2 separate regions of the Homo sapiens genome follow, and region 2 is linked to region 1. A link means that fine-mapping ties the variant in region 1 to the expression of a gene that starts in the linked region. Tissue or cell type: testis. Region 1 holds a variant in brackets; the other region holds the start of a gene. All regions are shown on one strand. Distances are from middle to middle.

Evidence for each region. PIP is the estimated chance that this variant, and not a neighbour inherited with it, causes the effect.
Region 2: LY6S-AS1 starts here. The variant in region 1 is fine-mapped to the expression of LY6S-AS1 in testis (GTEx, PIP 0.92).

Annotation. Positions count from the first base shown.
Region 1 is chr8:143,104,157-143,112,258 of GRCh38, forward strand. No RefSeq gene overlaps it. Among named protein-coding and RNA genes, the nearest start is that of LY6L, 28 kb to the left of the region's middle. The variant A/G (reference allele first, on the strand shown) is at 3,424.
Region 2 is chr8:143,036,107-143,044,208 of GRCh38, forward strand. It overlaps LY6S-AS1 (LY6S antisense RNA 1), which reads left to right and starts at 3,103. Exons shown (of 6, transcript NR_149322.1): 1 at 3,103-3,463; 2 at 6,852-6,981; 3 at 7,057-7,156. LY6S (lymphocyte antigen 6 family member S) reads right to left here. Exons shown (of 4, transcript NM_001406478.1): 4 at 4,733-7,232. The coding sequence ends at 7,015. RefSeq lists enhancers at 2,775-3,326, 5,348-5,923, 6,500-7,075.

The DNA.
Region 1 (8,102 bases):
GCGTGAGCCTGAGCCACATGCCTCACCCCTACTGGCTAGCAGGGCGCAGCTGTGTCAGCCGTGCACAAGCCTGAGCCACATGCCTCACCCCTCCTGGCTAGCAGGGCGCAGCCATGTACATCTGGGGCATGAGTGCTGGGTGACACTCACTCATGGCAGGAGGCCCAGGTCCCTTGACAACCTGTACTTTATGGTATAGGTTGTCTGTTCTAAGCATGTGTTCTGAAATGGAACATTCATAGTGTTCACTGGCTTACTAGTTTCACCTCTAGGAAGTAGTGAACCTTCACTTGAGCCCAGTCGAAAGCCAGACTTTTTTTTTCTTGAAAGGAGAACAGTTATCTGCTGAAGACTATTCTGCCTCCAAAATCCAGAACGCCCTGCCTGGCACTGTGCCCCTCTCTTAGTGATGGGAGGTACCAGGACAGCAATTCTCTTTCCCTTGGGGGGAAATCGGGAGATGCTCCCAGGCGCTGGACCCCGGAGATCCCACCGAGATGGAAGACGCCTGGATTTTGTGTGCCTTATTTTCCAAGCTTCTGGCAAACATTTCTGTTCTAAGCATGGATTCTGAAATGGAATATTTGCCACATGGTGGTTCCTGGGCTTGCTATTAATAGTTCCACTATAAGCTGGAGCTGATCTCAAACATTCTTTGCCATCTGACCGGCTTACCCTCACCCCCACTCCCCGGAATGAAGGAACAGTGTCATATTAAGTCTCCAGGAATTATCGGTGTCCAGTCATCCTGAAAATCCTGAAAAATATGGTCATTTCTCCTCCTCCAACACACAGTCATCCTGGCAAGAAGACGGCTAGGAAGATTTACACCCTGAATCCGTGCATGCAACAGTGTTCTCCTTCAGTGGAACCCTGCCTATGCTTGACTTAGGGCGCTCTGGCTAAAATACGGGAATCAGGGGTGGACGGTGGGTTCTCATTTGAGTCTTTCACTTGTGACATAAGCTGCCCAGGCCAGGATCCAGGATTTTTTTTTTTTTTTTTTTTTTTGAGATGGAGTCTTGCTCTGTCGCCCAGGCTGGAGTGCAGTGGCTCAATCTCGGCTCACTACAATCTCTGCCTCCTGGGTTCAAGCATTTCTCCTGCCTCAGCCTATGAAATAGCTGGGACTACAGGTGCCTGCCATGATACCTGGCTAATTTTTGTATTTTTTGTACAGATGTGCTTCACCACGTTGGCCAGGCTGGTCTCCAACTCCTGACCTCAGGTGATCTGCCTGCCATGGCCTTCCAAAGTGCTGGGATTATAGACATGAGCCACCATGCCTGGCCAGGCCAGGATTTTGTTTTAATCATTGCTTATACAAATCAGGTTAGACTGTCTCCCACTGAATTCAGGAAGCCAAGGGAAGCAACGTTTTTGCAGTTCTGGAATATTCTTCTGTTGCACTTTTTTTTTTTTTTTTTTTTTTTTTTTTTTTTGGAGACAGAGTCTCGCTCTGTTGCCCAGGCTGGAGTGCAGTGGCATGATCTCGGCTCACTGCAACATCTGCCTCCCAGGTTCAAGTGATTCTCCTGCCTCAGCCTCCTGAGTAGCTGGGACTACAGGTGCATGCCACCATGCCTGACTAACTTTTGTATTTTCAGTAGAGACAGGATTTCCCCATGTTGGCCAGGCTGGTCTGGAACTCTTGACCTCAGGTGATCCACCTGCCTCGATCTACAGAAGTGCTGGGATTATAGGCATGAGCCACTGTGCCCGGCCGCACTTTTTATTTGTCAAAGTACAAAGGTACTGACACACAAAAAACGTTTTTTCCTTTGTCATTTTTTTTTTGTGGTAAAATGCACATAACACAGAAAACCAAACGCCAAATCTCTCTCATAAGTGGGAGTTGAACAGTGAGAACACAAGGACACAGGGAGGGGAACAACCCACACCAGGGCCTGTTGGGGGGTGGGGAGCAACAGGAGGGAACTTAGAGGATGGGTCAATAGGTGCAGCAAACCACCATGGCACATGTATACCTATGTAACCAACCAGCGAACCACCATGGCACACATGTACCTATGTAACCAACCAGCGAACCACCATGGCACACACGTACCTAAGTAACCAACCAGCGAACCACCATGGCACACGCGTACCTATGTAACCAACCAGCAAACCACCATGGCACACGCGTACCTATGTAACAAACCAGCAAACCACCACGGCACGCATGTACCTAGGTAACCAACCAGCAAACCACCATGGCACGCATGTACCTATGTAACCAACCAGCAAACGACCATGGCACATGTGTACCTATGTAACAAACCAGTAAACTACCATGGCACGCATGTACCTATGTAACCAACCAGTAAACCACCATGGCACACATATACCTATGTAACCAACCAGCAAACCACCATGGCACACGTGTACCTATGTAACCAACCAGCAAACCACCATGGCACACGCATACCTATGTAACCAACCAGCAAACCACCATGGCATATGTATACCTACGTAACAAACCAGCAAACCACCCGGCACACATGTACCTATGTAACCAACCAGCAAACCACCATGGCACATGTATACCTACGTAACAAACCAGCAAACCACCCGGCACACGTATACCTATGTAACCAACCAGCAAACCACCATGGCACACGTATACCTATGTAACCAACCAGCAAACCACCATGGCACATGTATACCTACGTAACAAACCAGCAAACCACCCGGCACACATGTACCTATGTAACAAACCAGCAAACCGCCATGGCACACGCGTTCCTATGTAACCAACAGCAAACCACCATGGCATGTGTGTACCTATGTAGCAAACCTGCACATTCTGCACTTGTATCCCTGAACTTAAAGTAAAATTATTTTTAAAAATTTACCATTTTTATCATTTTAAAGTGTACAATTCAGTGGCATTAAGTACACTTATAATGTGTGACCATGACCACCATCTTGTTCCAGAACCTTCTCATCACTCCAGATGGAAACCCCATGCCCCACTAAGCAGTCACTCCCCATTTTTTCCTCCCCCAGCCCCTAAGCAACCACTTTCTGTCTCTTGGACTTGTCTGTTCTGGACATTTCATATGAATGGAACCATACAGCATGCGGCCTTTGGTGCCAGGCTTCCGAGGTGCATCCACGCGTGTCACATATCAGATGCATCCACACGTGTCATGTATCAGGTGCATCTATCTGCACGTGTCACATATCAGGTGCATCTGCACGTGTCAGGTCCATCCACGCGTGTCACGTATCAGGTGCATCTGCACGTGTCATGTATCAAATGCTGTAAGTCCTAGTCATGAGGAAAATGAAAACCAAAACCACAATGAGATAGATACCTCTTCACACCCACTAGGATGGTCATCGTCAAAACTACAGAAAATAACAAGTGCTGGTGAGAAGATGAGGAGATTGGAACTCTCAGACCCTGCTGGTGGGAAT[A/G]TAAAATGCCGCAGCCACTGGAAACAGTTTCTTATAAAAGTAAACGTGCAAGTCCTGTGCAACACAGCAAGGGCACTCCTAGGTATATACCCAACGGGACTGAAAACAGGCATTCAAACAAAAACTTGTCCATGAATGTTCATAGCAGCTGATATGGTTTGGATGTTTTTTCCTCTAAATATCATGTGGAAATGATCCCCAGTGTTGGAGGGGGTGGGAAGTGACTGGATCATGGGGGTGGACCCTTCACGGATGCCTTGCTGCCACCCCTTGCTAATGAGTGCTTTCTCACAGTGAGCTCCCGGGAGATGTGGCTGTTTAAAAGTGTGCGGCGTCTCCCCCCACTATGTTCCTCCTGCTCCCATCATGGGACGCGCCATCTCTCACTTCCACCATCAATAAAAGCTCTCCGAGGCCTCCTGAGAAGCCTCCGCAAGCCAATGCCAGTGCCATGCTTACTGTCCAGCCTGCAGAACTGCGAGACAAACACAAATACCAGTCTCAGGTATTTCTTTACAGCAACAAAAGAACAGCCTAATATATGCAGCAATATTCACAAGTACCAAATGGTAGAAGCAACCCAAATATCCCTCAACAAATGACGGATAAACAGAATGTTTAAGTGTATACAGAAGAACACTATTCAGCCACTGTCTCACAGTGAACAAGTCCAAACACATCTACCTCAAAGTCCAAGGAAGCTGACAGGCCAAAGAAAGAGGCTGACAAATTCACATCTTTTTTTTTTTTTTTCTTTTGAGGCAGAGTCTTGCTCTGTCGCCCAGGCTGGAGTGCAGTGGCGCCATCTCGGCTCACTGCAAGCTCCGCTTCCCGGGTTCACGCCATTCTCCTGCCTCAGCCTCCCGAGTAGCTGGAACTACAGGCGCCCGCCACCACGCCCGGCTAATTTTTTGTATTTTTAGTAGAGACGGGGTTTCACCGGGTTAGCCAGGATGGTCTCGATCTCCTGACCTCGTGAAATGCCCACCTCGGTCTCCCAAAGTGCTGAGATTACAGGCGTGAGCCACCGCGCCTGGCCCACAAATTCAGTTCTTAAAAAGAAACATTTAATAGGGACTTAGAAACAGAAGCCATGTCAGTCTCAGGCTACGGTGAGTCAAGATGGCGGCTCCCTGCGCCGTCACCACCCAGGCCCAGGGCTTCTATTGCCATAGTGCAGGGGACATGCCTCAGAGGGGGTGGGCAGGAATTTCCCTAAGGCCAGGACTTGTGATAAGGATGTGCTCTTACACAAGGAACAACAGATGAACGGGAACTCTCAGAGGCATTCCCGGAACTGAGGTTAATCAGAAGCCAACACGACAAACTAGCGTCCAAGATGGAGCGGCTTCGGCCTCCATGATCCGCCCGCGCCGCCCCACTAATCCAGCTCTGACCGTCTCACCTGCCCTCCTCTTCCGCGATGGTCCCTGAGCCTTAGGGAGGGTGCTTGGGGTTGTCTGGCTTCAGCAGCGGTGCCTTGGCGTCGGAAAACAGGTCGGGCCCGGTGAGAGTCCCAGTGAGGGAGGGTCACCGGCTGTTGAATCATCTCTAGTCTTCAGGATACCACGACTTCTGTTTTCTCAGAGAAAATAAAACAACAAGAGATACATAACATTAATAATTTGCACACAAGGATGACAATCAAAAGGGAATTTGTATTTCAGAACAGTAACAAAAAAGAACCTATTTCATTAAGAAGCCGACTAAAAGCATCGTGAAGGAAACTAAAACCCGGTTTTTCTTTAGAGACTTGTAGCCAGTGAATGATTCAGGATTAGCCCAAATTGTAAGCAAATAATAACTCAAAAACAACGGTCAGAGCTAGGATCTAAATTTTTCTCTCTCTAGTTTCCCCATTTCTACCAAGGATAAATCATAGTAGGACCAGTTTATTTGCAAAATAAATTTCGGTCTCATTATACTTGGCCTATTTGCATGAAGCGTGGCAAGAATAGTTACCAGCCCTAGAGGCTTTTTTTTTTTTTTTTTTTCCCTGTGACAGGGGCTTGCTCTGTCAGCCATGCTGGAGTACAATGGTGCAATCAGAGCTCACTGCAGCCTCAGCCTCTCAGGCTCAAACACTCCTCCTGCCTCAGCCTCCCGAGTAGCTGGGACCCTTGGCACACCCCACCACACCCAGCTCATTTTTTATGTTTTGTAGAGACAGGGTCTCAGCATGTTGCCTAAGCTGGTCGGCTCTTTTTAAGTTGGCTTTGCTGGAACTTTTTTAGGGAATTTTGGACTCAACTTATTAAAAGCCTCAAGGGTAGGAAGCCAAGCGAAGGATTCACTGAATGAAATTGAAGTATTTTACCGCAAATTGTGTTTCTTTGCCATGTCTTGAAATAGCCTTGCAAAGCTTTCTCTTGTGGGGAAAAGCTGCATTCTGAAGAGAATCCTTTTCCTTTTTCAGGACTTTTCCCTGATTCAAGAGAGAATCAACTCTGGTAAGAAACATTTACAATCTGTTCTCTCTGAAGCTACCTGGAGGCTTTCTCTGTGTAATAGGAACTTGGTCACCACAATCCCTCATTAACCCAGACATTCCTTCTTTTGATTCCAGGTCTTTAGATAGTAACTCCTTCAACCAATTGCCAATCAGTAAATCTTTGAATCTACCTATGACCTGGAAGTCCCTGTTTCAAGTTGTCCCACCTTTCCTGATCGAACAAATGTATGTCTTCCCTGTATTGATTGGTGTCTCATGGCTCCCTAAAATTTATAAAACCAAGTTGTGGCCCAAACACCTTGGGCACTTGTTCTCACGGTCTCCTGAGGCCGTGTCATGGGCCACAGTCTCTCATATTTGGCTCAGAATAAATCTCTTCCAATATTTTACAGTTTGACTCTTTTCGTTGATTTTTTCATGCCTTTACTTTTGCAGTAGTAGGTAGGGGTTTCCCCAGTCCACGTACAATATCCATTTTCCATTTTCCTTTTTTTTTTTTTTCCTGAGTCTCTATTGCCCAGGCTGGAGTGCAATGGCACAATCTCGGCTCACTGCAGCCTCTGCCTCTTGGGTTCAAGCAATTCTCCTGCCTCAGCCTCCCCAATAGCTGGGACTACAGGTGCATGCCACCATGCCCGGCTAATTTTTGTATTTTTAGTATAGATGGGGTTTCATCATGTTGGTCAGGGTGGTCTTGAACTCCTAACCCCAAGTGATCCGCCCACCTCGGCCTCCCAAAGTGCTAGGATTACAGGTGTGAACCACTGTACCAGCTTCAATATCCATTTTCATAAAGCATTTAGGTAAAGGATATGTAATGCCTTACATAAAGCCTGTTTAAACATCTCGGCTTTCATAACTCTATCACACAAGTCGACTTTCATAACTCGACGTCTTTCTGTTCTGCTCCCAGGAACTTCTTTTTCCCACCTCCAGACCATTTTACCCTCTCTTGTGAAAAAGGATGTGGGTGCCCCACAGGGGCTTGATCCAAGGGACCCTGGCCCTTCTGTCAATCTTATCTTGATTAACCCACCTCAACATTGGCCCCCGCAATTGTTGGTCAGTTTGCTCAGTGTAACTTTTGCCTTCCAATTTTTATAGTTAGAGTGCCTTCTCCAATCTGGCAAAAACTGTTTTGGAGCTCTTTACTGTTGAGGGACCAGCGGGGGCTCCCTTTGTTCACCCAACTTTCGATAGTGTTGTATTAAGACCTTTGTGAATAACCCCCCATTATTCATTCCATTGCTTAACAACCATGTACAGATTCCACCCCGCTAGGATGCACCCCATGACTCTCTCCTTTCCTTTTTCCTCTTGGTTTCACCCCATCCACTTTTTACCTTTTTTTTGAGATGGAGTCTTACTCTGCCACCCAGGCTGGAGTGCAGTGGCAGTCTTGACTCACTGCAATTCTCCTCCCTCAGTCTCCTGAGTAGCTGGGATTACAGGTGCGCGCCACCACACCTGGCTAATTTTTGTATTTTTAGTAGAGATGAGGTTTCGCCATGTTGGCCAGGCCAGTCTCGAACTCCTGATCTCAGGTGGTCTGCCCACCTCTGCCCCTCAAAGTGCTGAGATTACAGGCGTGAGCCACCAGGCCTGGCCCATTTTTTACCTATTTAAAACTAATCGTTTAAAAATTTTCCCCTTCCTAGGATGAGTCCTTGGACTCCCTTTTGCCTTTCCCAATAATTTTATTAATTAGCCTAAAGTTTTTATAAGCATCTGGATGACCCATGAGGGGAAGTTGAGACCCAATGAGGTGCCCAGGCCAATGGGCCCCCTTAACCACAGCATTTACCATGATCTGGGCATACTCAGCCGTGAATATCCCGGTCATCATAAAGTCAGTCCCACATGGCTTGCTTACGAAGCACATCAGCTGCTTCATCGGGGGTGCTCCACTTGGCGTTTATGGGGAAAGTTGGGTGGTCCCCTTCTCTTACAGTGCCTTTTATCCAGCCCACCAGGCTGGCCGTTCCCTCAGGAATAATCTGTGCGTCTGGATCACACACACTCATCTGCCATTGTTCAGCAGTGAGCTGTGGGTCTCACATCAGCCCACACGTGCTCTTCCATTCTGCTGCACTTGTGACCAGCAGAAGGGTGAGGCTGCTCACCACTTGTAGAAAGAAGCCAAAATAATAATGAGGTGTGATAGAAAGAGAGTGAGACTTTATTATCCGTACCAGCAAAGGGATGAGCACAAAGCAATTCCACTCTT
Region 2 (8,102 bases), 68 kb before region 1:
TTAAAAACACATTCAGGCTAGGCACGGTGGCTCATGCCTGTAATGCCAGCACTTTGGGAGGCCAAGGCCGGAGGTCAGGAGTTGGAGACCAGCCTGGCCAACAGGGTGAAACCCTGTCTCTACTAAAAATACAAAAATTAGCTGGGCCTAGTGGCACACACCTGTGATCCCGGCTACTTGGGAGGCTGAGACAGGAGAATCGCTGGAACCCGGGAGGGCAGCTGGACGGGAGGGCAGCTGGAACCCGGGAGGTTGCAGTGAGCCGAGATCGCGCCATTGCACTCCAGCCTGGGTGACAAGAGAGAGACTCCATCTCAAAAAAAAAAAAAGATTCAACATTAATGAATGAAGCATTCATCACAAGAAATTACAGGAAGAACAGCAAATGGAATCCAAAAAAACGGAAGAAAGAAACGAATAAAAGTGACATCAGAAATTAATAATATGGAAATTATGTACATATTAGGATACACAAGTTAGTTATTTCTTTGGATAAACTAAAAACTTTGATAACTCTTGCTTTTTTTTTTTTTTTTTTTTTTTTTTGAGACAGGGTCTCACTCTGTTGCCAGGGCTGGAGTGCAGTGGTGCAATCTCAGCTGACTGCAACCTCCGCCTCCCAGGTTCAAGCAATTCTTGTGTTTCAGCCTCCCAAGTAGCTGGGATTACAGGCTTGTGCACCATGCCCGGCTAATATTTGTTATTTTTTGTAGAGATGAGGTTTCACCATGTTGGCCAGGCTGGTCTCAAACTCCTGACCTAAAATTATCCACCTGCCTCAACCTCCCAAAGTGCTGGAATTACAGGTGTGAGCCACCACGCCCAGCCTTAAAAATGTGGATAATTCTTGTGGGAGACCAGTCAAGAAAAGAAGAGGAGAAAAACAGCCATAATAGCAATGGGGAAAAAATCAGGATCAACAGAGTCTTCAGCCGGGCGCAGTGGCTCACACCTGTAATCCCAACACTTTGGGAAGCCGAGGCAGGTGGATCCCTTGAGCCCAAGGGAGAAATAGCGAAGGGGGACACGTCACACTTTCAAACCATCAGATCTCCTGAGAACTCACTCACTATCACCAGAACAGCAAGGGGGAGGTCTGACCCCACGATCCAATCACCTCCCACGTGGCCCCTCCGCCAATTCCACATGAGATCTGGGCGGGGACACAAATCCAAACCATCTCATCCTGTAACTTCTTTCTCCCTAAAGGGTATAAAATCGAGCTGTACCCCGGCCACCTTGGGCACATGTTCCCCGAACCTCCTGAGTCTCTGTCATGTGAGGTCATGGTCCTCACATTTGGCTCAGAATAAACCTCTTCAAATATTTTAGAGTTTGGCTTTCTTTCATCAACACATCCCATCCTGTAAAACGCAGAGTAAGCCGGAGAGAATGGCTCACACCTGTAATCTCAACACTTTGGGAGACCAAGATGGGAGGATCATTTGAGGCCAGGAGTTCAAGAGACCAGCTTGGCCAACAAAGCAAGACCTCATCTCTAAAAAAAAAATAAGTAAATAAAAACAAATGTGAGTGACTTCACTCTTCTCTCCCAGAGCCTCCAGTTGTCACTTTTCTGAGTTTCTTCAGGGTCTCTTGAACTGTACTCAGGGTGTCAAGAGGTACAGTTGGGAAGGATGGGGGCCTCTAATGAGGGGGTTAAGAGCATCATTCTGGAGGAGACATGAGGGAGGCAGCAGAGAGGGGCTGTGGTGTGGCCTTCACACACTGCAACTCCTGGAGGTCGGGCAGGGGCAGGATGTCCAGACAGTGGACGCATGAGTGGGGAAGCCTTCAGCCACCCTGACTCCACCTAGGAGGTGCCCCAAGGCAGAACCAGCAGCTGAGCCTGGCCAGCCCCGGCAGCGATGAGAGACAGTAGGTTTTGGGGTGACCAACAGGGAGCCCCAGCAGGAGCCCAGCAGGAGAGAGAAGCTGGATATTGATCCTGCTGGCCCCTCCTGCAGTCCGCAGGACTGTCCACAGCCCTCGCTCCTCTTAAGCAGCTCACCTGCCTTGGTGGCCCCTCCCCTCCTGGCCCCTCCTTTTGGGCCTGGGTTGGGGGTGGCAGGGGTCCTGTCCCTGCACCCGGAGTGGAGTGGGATATGGCACTGGAATGTTTCTAGGCAGCCCACTCCTGTAAGAGGGCCTGGGGCTGGGCCCAGTAGTTCACACCTGTAATCGCAGCACTTTGGGAGGCTGAGGCAGGAGGATCGCTTGAGCCTCGGAGTTCGAGAGCAGCCTGGGCAACATAGAGACCCCACTTCTACTTGAGAGACACACAGAGAGAGAGAGAGGGAGGGAGGGAGAGAGGGAGGGAGGGAGAGAGAGAGGGAGGGAGGGAGAGAGAGAGGGAGAGAGGGAGGGAGGGAGAGAGAGAGAGAGAGAGAGAGAGAGAGAGAGAGAGAGAGAGAGAGAGAGAGAGAGAGAGAGAGAGAGAGAGAGAGAGGGAGAGAGAGAGAGAGGGAGGGAGGGAGGGAGGGAGAGAGAGAGGCTTCTGGTAAATGCTCCTATTTTGCAAACTCTCTTCCTATTTTGTGATTAGGATGCTCCATCAGTTTCTGCCACCAGCTTGCTGGAGACGCTGCGTGTCCCTGACTCCTCTCAAAGGGTGAAAAGCTCAGTCGCACCCGAGACCTGCTCCTCAGGCAGAGGATGAACTGAGTCCCCGCCCCACCGCCCGTCTGGCCTCTGTGAGAGTGGCGTGCAGGCTGACCCTGGAAGCAGAGGGACATTCGAACGGGCCGGCGGCCTTCTCCCCGCTAGGCTGGGCTCCGGGGTGGGCGGAGAGTGGCCGCCACAGGCCATCAGCGTCCGGGGTTCTGGAAGCAGGGAGGGCAGAGGCTGGCCCAGCCTATGGGAGACCCTGCAGAGGCGTGGCCTCCAGGCTAATCCTACCCCAGCTGCCCCAGGGCGGGATTTCTTTTCTTTTTTCCTTTAATCTCTTTATCTACAGGCGCCGAGGCTTAATGAGCTCCAGATGTCTCAACATACCAGGAGAGGTTTAGGATCCCCTGCCAAATACAAGGGAGATAAGAACGCACCAGACTTGCACAAACCAGAGCTGGTGACCCCCAGTTCCCTTTAAATCAGCGACATGTCATTACAAGGCGGAAGTCCTGCCCGAGAGGACAGTCCCCAGGCCTTGCTAAGCATGCGTGGTATCAAGAGGTGCATTGAGGCGCTCCTGCAGCCTCCTCCCGGCACGGGACTCCTCACAACCCCCAGCCTCAGCTTCCCTGACAGGGCAGGGGCTCACTCTTCTCCACTCCGGGCCAGGAACGCAGCCTGCTTGCCTTTTGTCCAATTGGGTGCTCTTTCTTTGCGACTGATACAAAGTGGGAACAAACTCCGCTTCCGGTGATGCCCGGGCCCCAGGAGGCTGGGGGAGAAGTGCACGCTGCCCAGCCTTCAACCTGAACTGCCCCCAGCACTTCCGAGCCCCGACCCCTGCAGCTGTGAGGTGAGGTGGGGAGGGGGCGGCCTGCGGGGAGGGGGCTGCCTGCGGGGAGGGGGCTGCCTGCAGGGCGGGCCGTGTGGGTCCCCCGAGCGTGGGGGACCAGTGACGTCAGGCAACATTTCTCCAAAGGCTCCCTCACCTTGTCCTTTGGCATCTGGGGTGCTCAGAGGAAGGGGGAAGCCGGGAGGGTGTGGAGAGGGTCACTGGAGAGGGGAAAGGCCAGAGTGATCCCCTTGGGGACGAGGCAGAGGAAAAGCTGTGGAGACCTAAAGAGAAGAGGTGGGGTGCGCCTGGGCCTCTCAAGTTTGTTTCCCAGAACCAGGGAAGGTTACAGTGGAAGGGAGGACCCTGTGGGGAAGAAGCTTCCAGAGACCTTCTGGAGAGGTGAGCCAAAGGCGAGCCATGGCCAGAAACCCCAGGCCTGCTGCAGTGGAGAGTCAGTGCTGCAGGAGGCTTGGGAATCAGGGCTGCCCTCCTTGGGCTGAACCCTCTATCTAGGGGACAATGGCCCTGGGCAAAAGCACTGCTTTCTGGGCCCCCTGGAGGGTAGGGCATGACACTGTGGTGCTAGAGGCAGGGGGGACATGAGGAGGTAGACGAATGTCCTGAGTCACCAGGTACAACCACTGCACCCCATTGTGACTGCCCCTGTGTCCGACACAGATTTGGGGGGTCTGGAATGTCCCTTGAGCTCCTTAGGCACTCATGAATTTCTAGTTGAGCAAATAAAATGTCCAAGATGCCCAGTTTGATCTGAATCTCAGATAAACAACAAATAGTCATTTTTACCAATGTTTGGGACATACTTATGCTAAAAATTGTTTATCTGAAATTCATATTTAATTGGGCATCTTACCCCATTGACCCTAATTAGCAAATCACATCCAGGAGTACAGGGCATGGCTGGGTGGTGGCTGTCACACTGTGCAGTCAGAGGGACCAGGACGTCTTGGATGCAGGCGTCTGGCCAGCGTGGAAGGCCAGGACCTGGTCACGAGATGTGGCTCCCGGCATGGCAGGTCAAAGACTGCTGGTCGTCTGAGCCCAGCCCTGACTCCAGGCTGAGATGGCCATTCACCCAGACCTTGAGCCCTGCCCTGACTCCAGGCTGAGACGGCCGTCCACCCAGACCATTCTGAGCCCTGCCCTGACCCCAGGCTGAGATGGTCATCTATCGGGGGAAATTCACCCCCGATATTTCATGTAGGTTCTTTTCTATTTTCCCTAAGTGTCGGCCAGTCTGAGAAATAAAGGGACAGAGTACAAAAGAGAGAAATTTCAAAGCTGGGCGTCCGGGGGAGACATCACATGTCGGCAGGTTCCGTGATGCCCCCTGAGCCGTAAAACCAGCAAATTTTTATTAGTGATTTTCAGAAGGGGAGGGAGTGTACAAATAGGATGTGGGTCACAGAGATCACATGCTTCACAAGGTAATAAGATATCACAAGGCAAACGGAGGCAGGGCGAGATCACAGGACCACGGGACCGGGGCGAAATTAAAATTGCTAATGAAGTTTTGGGCACACATTGTCATTGATAACATCTTATCAGGAGACAGGGTTTGAGAGCAGACAACCAGTCTGACCAAAATTTATTAGGCGGGAATTTCCTCATCCTAATAAGCCTGGGAGCACTGCGGGAGACTGGGGCTTATTTCATCCCTTATCTACAACTGTAAAAGGCAGCCGTCCCCAAAGCAGACATTTCAGAGGCCTCCCCTTAGGGATACATTCTCTTTCTCAGGGATGTTCCTTGCTGAGAAAAAGAATTCAGCGATATTTCTCCTATTTGCTTTTGAAAGAAGAGAAATATGGCTCTGTTTCACCTGGCTCACAGGCAACCAGAGTTTAAGGTGATCTCTCTTGTTCCCTGAACGTTGCTGTTACCCTGTTCTTTTTTCAAGGTACCCAGATTTCATATTGTTCAAACACACATGCTCTGCAAACAATTTGTGCAGTTAACACAATCATCACAGGGTCCTGAGGCAATATACATCCTCCTCAGCTTACGAAGATGATGGGATTAAAAGATTAAAGACAGGCATAGGAAATCACAAGGGTATTGATTGGGGAAGTGATAAGTGTCCATGAAATCTTCACAATTTATGTTCAGAGATTGCAGTAAAGACAGGCATAAGAAATTATAAAAGTATTAATTTGGGGAACTAATAAATGTCCATGAAATCTTCACAATTTATGTTCTTCTTCCATGGCTTCAGCCGGTCCCTCTGTTTGGGGTCCCTGACAATAGCCGTCCACCCAGACTGTTCTGAGCCCAGCCCTGACTCCAGGCTGAGACGGCCGTCCACCCAGGGCGTTCTCAGCCCAGCCCTGACTCCAGGCTGAGACGGCCGTCCACCCAGGGCGTTCTCAGCCCAGCCCTGACTCCAGGCTGAGACGGCCGTCCACCCAGGGCGTTCTCAGCCCAGCCCTGACTCCAGGCTGAGACGGCCGTCCACCCAGGGCGTTCTCAGCCCAGCCCTGACTCCAGGCTGAGACGGCCGTCCACCCAGGGCGTTCTCAGCCCAGCCCTGACTCCAGGCTGAGACGACCGTCCACCCAGGGCGTTCTCAGCCCAGCCCTGACTCCAGGCTGAGATGACCGTCCACCCAGACCATTCTGAGCCCAGCCCTGACTTTCTGTCCAGAGTGCAGTCCTGAAGGAGCCCCTTTCTCCCACCACCAGGGGAGACCAGTCTAACCCCTGACACGGGGCATCATGGGAGCCCTAGCCAGGGCACAGAAATGACAGGCCTGGCCCACACCACAGGATGGCTGGTGGCCGCAGGAGCTCTGCCTCTTGGTGACCATCCAGAGGCTCTCTGACAACCCTACTCAGATGTTCCCTGGAGCCACATGGCAAGAGTTCTGCCAGAAGAGCCATGAGCCTGGCACTCTGTGGGTTCTGGTCCCTGGGGGGGCACCCGTGCCCCAGGAGCACCTCCCCAAGGCCATGGTGCCAGCAGGATGTTGCAGAGGCCTGAGGTCAGAGTGGCAGGTGGGCGGCCTCAGGAATGGTGAGGAAGAAGCCGAGTGCTGACGCTGAGTGGGTCAGCAAAGGGCTGTTTGTTGACCTTGAGAGGGAGGCCCTCATCCTGTGTGGGAGGCCAGCAGGGCCCCCTGGGACCACGTTCCCTCCTTGCTTGGATTCAGGTAGCCCAGAGAGCTGAGGGGTTGGCCCTGGCTCCTCGGCAAGTTAGTGGCAAGCTGGATGGAGCTGGGGACTCCCGCCCTGGGCCACGGTTTCTCTATGACCCTAGGTCCCAAGCAGCCAGTGGTGGGGCCTGGTCTCTGAGGCCCAGCTCTGAAAAAAGTGGTGTTGTTGGGGGGCATGGGCTGGAGGGCCTGGGCCCAGAGGACAAGGAGTTTAAGCAGGGATATGTTCCCTGACAGGGAAGCCCCGACCTCTGCCCTGGCCACATCCTTCCCCTGATCTCATGGCTGAAAAGCCACACCAGAATTCCTGCAATTCAGTGAGGCAGCTCTTCAAAACCAAGCAGCTGGTGACGCACAGGGACAGAGGGTAGGCCTGCGGGGGAGAGGGCGGGAAAGGCCCTCACAGCAGGGCCCAGAGGAAGACTGACCCCAGGCTGAGCAGGAGCTGTACGCACAGGGCCCAGGGGCTGCTGGCTGCCAGGACCACCGCATTGCAGAGGTCTCCCTTGCAGCAAGAGATCTGGGAGTCCACAACGGCACTTGTAAGTTTCAGCAGGGGGAATCCGACGTCCTTCTGGCAGGAGAGGAGGGAGAGCTTGTTCTCCCCTCTCACTTTACCTGCGAGAGAGCGGGGTGGGGGATGAGCAGGGCCCTGCCCCGGGGCCTCAGGGGCTTTCTGCAGGGAGGCTCCGCACCCCAACATCTGCTGGCTGGGAGCCTGAACATCAAAGCCATCAGGACCAAGGCCATCGGAGCCCTTTCACTTAGGGGACGCTGAGGCCACCCAGGGAACCAGGGTTGTGGCAGAAAGGGCAGCAGGGTTTGAGTTCTTTCCCCAGGCAGCCCTCACCCTGCCCCGGCCTTGGGACCCCCGAAGCGGGAGCTGGGTGGGCTGTGGAGGGGAGCTGGGTGCTGCTTTTGGGAAACAGCTGCGGGCTCCAGGCTGGCTTTTTTTTTTTTAAATATCTTTTTGAGATGGAGTTTTGCTCTTGTGGCCCAGGCTGGAGTGCAATGGGGCGATCTCTGCTCACCACAACCTCCACCTCCTGGGTTCAAGCGATTCTCCTGCCTCAGCCTCCCCAGTAGCTGGGATTACAGGCATGCCCCACCAGGCCCGGCTAATTTTGTATTTTTAATAGATACAGGGTTTCTCCATGTTGGTCAGGCTGGTCTCCAACTCCCGACCTCAGGTGATCCCCCCGCCTTGGCCTCCCAAAGTGCTGGGACTACAGTCATGAGCCACCGTGCCCGGCCAGGGCAGGCCTTTTCCTGCCTCACCTCACTGAAGGGTGTGGCCTGGGGACAGATGCAGCTCCGAGAGCTGAGGGTGCTGAGGGTGCTGAGGGTGCTGAGGGCCTGGGCAGGCTGCAGCCCCTCCCCAGTCCTCCCATGGCCTGGCTGATATCCCACCATTCCAGAGTCATTCCTTTAGCTTGAAGCTAACTGTCTCCAGGTTCTTCCAGGCAGGTAACTCACTGAATGCTCACA